Linked DNA regions of Homo sapiens. The protein of the gene in region 2 interacts with the protein of the main gene of each other region in a pairwise test. Each region holds a gene or a part of one and is shown on either strand. Other genes may lie near its edges.

The links.
Region 1: the proteins of FMR1NB (region 2) and WT1 interact in a two-hybrid assay, tested with the Homo sapiens proteins (one large-scale study listed by BioGRID and IntAct).

Annotation. Positions count from the first base shown.
Region 1 is NC_000011.10:32,393,713-32,397,540, forward strand, and holds part of WT1 (Wilms tumor protein), read right to left. Parts: intron 2,696-3,828; coding exon 2,545-2,695; intron 1-2,544. UniProt on the Homo sapiens protein: Transcription factor that plays an important role in cellular development and cell survival. Recognizes and binds to the DNA sequence 5'-GCG(T/G)GGGCG-3'. Regulates the expression of numerous target genes, including EPO.
Region 2 is NC_000023.11:147,998,269-148,002,096, reverse strand, and holds part of FMR1NB (FMR1 neighbor protein), read right to left. Parts: intron 1-3,828.

The DNA.
Region 1 (3,828 bases), on a different chromosome or scaffold from region 2:
AAAAGTCTCCTGGGTGTCTCCTTCTTCTGCAATGCCTGCTTGGAAACTGCATGGGCCAATTTCCCTTCCTTCCCTCATTACGACATTTATTCCAGGCTGTCTAATGTGGTGAGCTGTGTCTGGGTCTACAATTCTACAATTCTTCAATGGGTTGGAAAATCCTAAGGGCTGGAGCCTTTTTATTTTTATTTTTTCTCAGAGACAGAGTCTCTCTCTGTTGCCCAGACTAAAGCGCAGTGGTGTGAGCCTAGCTCACTGCAGCCTCGAAACCGTGGGCACAAGCAATCCTCCTACCTCAGCCTCCTGAGTAGCTGGGACTACAGGCATACACCAGCACACTTGGCTAAATTTTTAAAAATATTTTTTTTAGAGACAGGGTCTCACTATATTGCCCAGGCTGGTCTTGAACCCCTTAAGCAATCCTCCCGCCTACGCCTCCCAACATACTGGGATTACAGGTGTGAGCCACTGCACCTGGCCCCTTTCTTTGTATTTGTATCCAGGTTGGTGCCTTATGTTTCACCTCTGTGAGCTGGAGAAGATGTTACCCCTATTGAGTCTGATTTCCTTCCCCTGCCTTTGAGCTTCTGCTCATCTATCACTTTCTCTGCCCAAACTACCAGCCTCCACTGGCTAACCCAAGCTGTTCTTCCTCTGAGAAACTTTCTCGGATGACCTTAGTTCAAACTGATACCCTCCAAACCCCTCGGTACCTCCTGTCTCTGATTTAGTACATGATCATGTACTCTCTCAGTCACTTTTCATTTCTTTATATCCTAGCTCCCAAACAAACCAGGAACTCTTTGAGAAGGAGGATTATAACCTGCAGTTAAAAAGAAGGAGTTTGAGTCCTCTTTCTGCTATATCCTATACTCTTCATAAATGTTTTGTGAGTGAGGATTAAATGAAATATACATGTAGAGAGCCTGACACCCAAAAAGTACTTAATATAACAGTCTGTACTGTTGTTATAAATAAATAAGAAAATATTGCTCTCTTTCAAGGGGGACTGTAGGATTGTTAAATACCAACCTGCCCTCATCTTCTGCAAGGAAGAGTTTCTTAAAGGCTCCAGTGGGTCTGGGGTTTTGGCTGTCTTGTTCACTGCCTTCCCTTCACACAGTTGTCTAACCCTCACTGCATTCTAAGTGCTTCTCTCTCACTAAAAGTTTCTACAACCATATTGCCTTCATTTATTCCCTTGCATTTTTCAGGCAGGACTTTACTTTCTCGTTTTCCTTATAACCTTGACAGTCACTTTTCAAATGATCCCATTTGGGGAAATGTGTAAAAACATAACATGCCACTGGTCCCCTCCTTTTTAGCCTCAAAGTCTGTGGCCCACTGAGTGCAAACTCAGATTGACACCAGAATTGCATCCTCTGGACACAGTGAATTAGCAAATTTCAATGGTCCAAGGAAATCTGAATGCAGCTCACTTTTTTCTCCAGCTTCCCAAGAGCAAAATCAGCAGTAATAACACAGTTGCAACAGTGATCCTATAATAATGCTGTTCTTCGATTGTGGAAAAGGCAGCAGTAGCTCCTCTGTAGGAAAACCTGGGTTTTACCACACTCCCACACTCCCACCTAGTGCCCACAAGGCCCAGAGTAAACGTTCTGTGACATGGCTGTCCACATTCAAGGTGGCCAACACCAAACAATGCCAGTTCTCTGTTTCCCAGAAGCAGCCTCTCTGACCTGGGGGAAAATCCAGTTTCATTGGCGTATCTTCAAAGATAAAAAATCATCATCTCTCTCTCTCCTTTTTTTTTTTTTTGGCAGAGTCTTGCTCTGTCGCCCAGGCTGGAGTACAGTGGTAAGATCTCAGCTCACTGCAACCTCTGCCTCCTAGGTTCAAGCAATTCTCCTGCCCCAGCCTCCCAAGTACAGGTGCGTGCCACCACACCCGGCTCATTTTTGTATTTTTAGTAGAGACGGGGTTTCACCTTGTTGGCCAGGCTGGTCTCCAACTCCTGACCTTGGGTGATCCACCCACTTCGGCCTCCCAAAGTGCTGGGATTACAGGCGTGAGCCCCCATGACTGACCTTTTTTTTTTAAGTGATCACTAAAAAATCAAACTAACAATCAATTTTCCCCTTCCTGTCTAGTTGATTATTACTGACCCAAGCAGGTAAGTTTTTCTTTGGACCATCTCTTCTAAAATTTCACAATGATCTTGCCCATCGACCTCCTAAAACCATCTGATGACTATATTCCCAGGCCAGCTCCTCTCTCCTTAGAAATGCTAATAGTATTCTAACACCAACACGATTCCTACACAGGTCTCTTTAATTCTGTGGCACTTTCTCTCTACCACTCTGCTCTGCCTTTCTGGAAGACAGTTTACTGACCTCTGTAATAAAGGATAGATAATCAGAATGCAAAATGGCCCCACAGCCTCTTTACAACACCTGGATCAGACCTTTCAAAGCAGTGCTTACTTTCCATCCTGGAAATAACCTGGGTCCTTAGCAGTGTGAGAGCCTGGAAAAGGAGCTCTTGAACCATGTTTGCCCAAGACTGGACAGCGGGCACACTTACCAGTGTGCTTCCTGCTGTGCATCTGTAAGTGGGACAGCTTAAAATATCTCTTATTGCAGCCTGGGTAAGCACACATGAAGGGGCGTTTCTCACTGGTCTCAGATGCCGACCGTACAAGAGTCGGGGCTACTCCAGGCACACGTCGCACATCCTGCAGGCAGAGAGTAAGAGGAAGGGAGGCTTTAAGCCACATGTGAACATTCACGTAGGTCTTGAGGGAGAGTGAGCACTGGAGTATATCCAAAGAAGGGGTGGCAGGTGCAGACCTAAAACCACTCCCATTCACACTCCAGATCCCCATGGCAGACATCAGTAATGGATGCTAGATCAGGACATTCTACAATGCAGTGCTCTAAGATCATCACTACTGAGCAACCAGAAGTGGCTGTTGAGATGAAACCTACATGAAATGGCTGTCCCAGAGCCTCTGCAAAAGAAATGCTGGTACCTGGAAGAGCTCCCAATCCATTCTATCTCTCAGCTTCTCCTCTTGAGGTAGTGATGTCTGCAAGTCCAAAGTCCCAAAGTCTAACTACTCCCTCCCACTTGGAGTCATGACCACATGACCTAGAGCCAGTCTGCAATGGGTGGGGACATCCTTATTAGAAAAAAGTGGGATAATGAATGAGCCCCTAACTGACCAGATCGTCCAAGTATAAGTAAATAACAAGGAAGAAGAAGCCCCTGGATTTGGGGATCCCATCTGTGAAAGGAAGCAAAACCCACCAGAAGGCCATGGTGAAGCCAGCACAACCTTTAATAGTGAGGCCAGAAAGCACTGGAATCCATCTGCCTTCTGTGCTCTGCACACGTCCTTTGCAGGGCATCTGTTGCTCCCCTTTATCTTGTGGAAGTGCAGTGTGTGTGTTGTCAGTCTTCCAAGAATAAGAACTGGAGGAAAACAAAGAGGCAAGCTCCCCTTCCTCTTCTTGGGGTCAGGGAGTCATAAATGGGAGCTGAGCAAGTGCCTGAGTGGCCACTAAATTCTCCTCATTCCTTTATAGATGAGTAAATCAACCCCAAAGGCGGTGAGATGCTGACACAAGAGTGCATCCATGTTTTGGTTTTGTTTGTTCTTAAGACAGGATCTTATTCTGTTGTCCAGGCTGGAGTGCAGTGGCACGATCGGGGCTCCTGCAGCCTCGACCTCACCAGCTTAAGTAATCCTCCCACTTCAGCCTCCTGAACAGCTGGGACAACAGGTGAGAGTCATCATGCCCAGCTAATTTTTTTTTTTTTTTTTGGTAGAGATAGGGTCTCCCTATGTTGCTCAGGCTGGTCTCA
Region 2 (3,828 bases):
CAATCTCTTCCTTTATTATTTTTACCTCTATAAAGGCATTCTATACTCTAATACTCCCAACATTTTCATGGTTGTACTTTTTAAATTTAAATATTTAATACACCTGGAGTATATTTTGGAGTGTGTTGTGGAGTAGGGATACGATTTTTCCAGCAGTCATAAGGCCCTTTATTAAATCCATCCTTTTCTGTTATACTTAAGATAACATCATCACATTCTAAATCCTTACTATATCCTTATAGTCATAGATCTGCTTCTTGACTTTCTATTCTGTTCCACCAACCTATCTATTCATGTGCCAATACTAATGTTATTGTTTATTTTATCTTTTCTTTTATTTTTTTTTTGAGACAGAGTATCGCTCTGTTGCCCAGGCTGGAGTGCAATGGCGCAATCTCAGCTCACTGCAACCTCCGCCTTCCTGGTTCAAGTGATTCTTGTGCCTTGGCCTCCCGAGTAGCTGAGATTACAGGCATGCACCATCACGCTCAACTAATTTTTGTATTTTTAGTAGAGACGGGGTTTCACCATGTTTCCCAGGCTGGTATCGTGATCCACCTGTCTAGGCCTCCGTAAGCCACTGCACCCGGCCTATCTTATGTCATTATGTTTTAATAACTGATCTGGTAATCCTTTCATTGTCTCTACTATCAAATTTTATTTTCAGCTCTGAGAATTTTTTAGATGAACCTTAAAATCGTTTTGTCAAGTCAAAAAAAATTCTAAATTTTATGGTAATTATGTTCACTTATTTATCATTCATTCAAAAATCATTTATTGTGTGTCCCACGTGCTAGGCATGAATTCAATTAAATGTAGACTCATTTGGAGAGAATTGATAATGTTACAAAATTTTTTCACCTAAGTAGTTTTGTTTCTCTGTTCATTCAAGTCTCTTTTTATGTCCCTGAATAAGGTTTATCATTGTATTCAGATAGGCCCTGCACTTTTCTTAGTACATTTATTCCCAGGCATCATATATATTTTGTTGTTTTGTGAACATAATCCATTTCACCACATTTTCTAGTGGATTGATGGTATGTAAGAGAGCTATTGATTTTTATACATATATTTTCTTCCTCCCTTAGTTAACTCTCGTTAGTTCTCATTGTTCTTCAGTTTCATTCCAGATAGACAATAATATTATCACTAAATATAGATGACTTTGTCTCCTTTCTTTACAATATTAACACCTGAATTATTTTTCTTCTTTCACTGTATTGCCTAGAAATGTTTAAACTATGTTGATTAATAACCATAATAATGGGCGTTCTTGAGTCATTCCTGACTTTAATGGGAATGTGCTAATATTTCATAATGAAGTATAATGTTGGCTGCTGGTGTAAGATAGATACCCTTTATTAAATTAAGGATGTATTTCTCTAGTTTTAGTTTTCTACAAATTTTCTGTTGTTATTTTGTTTCATTTTGAATCAGGGATAGAACTGGGATTCTATCAAATCCTTTTAATATTTACTGCCATGATGATATTTCCCCCTGCCTATTAATTATTGAATGTTATTAATATATTTGCCAATATTAAAATATTCTTGCATTCTTGAACAAAGTCCACAAGTGCTAATGTTTTATATAGGATTCATGATTCAACATTCCTAAGTGAAGTGTGTCTGCAGTTTTCTTTTGTGTGCTACATCTGTAAATTTTGGCATAAGAGTTATACCTGTTTCATTCATAAAATAACCTAGGAAGCTTCCTGTTGCTTTTCTAGACTAAAACAGATGAAACAATATAGGAATGATTTGATCCATTAAAGGTTTGGGAAAACTCATCCAGAAAAAGTCTGAGTCTTCATTTTTTGGAGAGGGGTAGTTCTTTATCTTTTGCTTCTTCATGGTCACAGTTAATTTTGTTATTTTTATTTTGCTAGGAAATCATCTATTTACAAAGCAATTATTAGCATGGAATCATAAGACTATTCACTTGTAATATTTAAATCTCCTTTATATCAATGATAATATCTTCTTTCTCATTTTAATGAGAGCAACTTCCATACACATACATTTGAATGTGTACTCTCACAATGAACTCTATTATAAATGTTAAATCAAGCTAAATTATATTATGCAAATGCTCTGTATCTTTATTTTTCTGTCAAGGACTAAAAGATAAATATTAAAGTATCTCACCATGATTGTGGTTTTGACGATTTCTACTTAAATTTCTAAAACTATTTGTTTCATATATTCCAATAGTGCATATTCAATCATGACAATTTTATCTTCACTATATATTACACCTTGACAATATTAAACATAATCCATTTTGTCCTGCTTGTTTTCTACTAATGCTTACTCATTATTGAACACCCACTATATTCTGTGTTTTGAGGATATATCAGTGAACAAGTCAGACAAGATCCCTGCCCTCATGGAGCTTACTACAATGCAGTGGAGAAGACAGACCACTAACAAATTAAGTAATTACAAATTGTAATGAGTGCTATGAAGAAAAGTGGATACTGATACAGAATAAAGGAGGGGGGCTACTTTAAATGGGAGCCAGTCTCTCTGAGGAGATGATATTTAAGTGGAAAAAAAAAAAAGACTAGAAGTAGCTGGCTGAACAAAGGGCCTGGGAGAGTGCTTCCAGCACAAGGACAAGAAATGAGATTAATGTTGCTAGGCACATTTTGCCAGATCAGAGAACCCTCTGTCCTACATGACATGAGAAGGGAGCTACAGATGGAAGGGACCTTGACAAGACTTTAGTTCCATATTGCTGTTTGTTTGCTCAGTGTTCCCCTTCGTCAATTTGCTGTCCTTGTTGCCACTCGATTCAGCACACCATCTGAAGTAAGTGTTGGCTGACAGTAGCACACTGAGGCCCAAGTCTCCATCCTAAGTTATATTCAGCAAGTTATGTGCTCTCTGGAATTCCTCTAGAATATTGATCCCCCAACTTAGAGTCCCCAACTCAGAGTGCCCTAGCCTCCAGACCCTGCTGGACAGGCTTGCCCTTGGCTTGACATGAAACACAAGTTGCTGTGATTTCTCTCCATCATGTTTTTATCTTTCAGAGAACCCTCCAAGTTTCTGGCATATAGATGCCAGATGGAAACTTTCTAGGTTCTCCAGGTTTTCACCCTTTATAGATCTTTCGGTCATTACAATGGGCATTGAAATGAAAGCGACAATTAAACATCTTAACTAAGATGAGCAACATCAGTGGCAGTCTCAACCATAAGTCTAGAATATATTTTACCCTGCCCTCCACCTTTGGTTTCTTCCGTACTCTGAAAGAAAATTATTTTTAAATTAATTTGAGCAGTATGTCTCAAAGTGTAGTCTATCACTAGTAGTACATAAGAATTTTAGGTGGAACATAGATGAATATTTATGGATATATTAATGTTTGCTATGAGTTTATTTGAAAGTGTAAAAGAAAAAAATGAGTAACATATCAAACCTACCATGACACCAAACACGGCTGACATCACTTGCCATAGGGCAAATCTTTATAAACTTTGTCTTTTTTGATACTTTGAGTTCTGGGATACATGTGCAGAATGTGCAGGTTTGTTACATAGGTATACATGGGCCATGGTGGTTTGCTGCACCCATCAACCCGTCATCTACATTAGGTATTTCTCCTAATGCTCTCCCTCCTCTAGCCCCCCACCCCCTGACAGGCCCTGGTGTGTGATGTTCCTCTCCCTGTGTCCATATGTTCTCATTGTTCAACTCCCACTTATGTGTGAGAACATGCGGTGTTTAGTTTTCTGTCCCTGTGTTAGTTTGCTGAGAATGATGGTTTCAAGCCTCATCCATGTCCCTGCAAAGGACATGAACTCATTCTTTTTTATGGCTG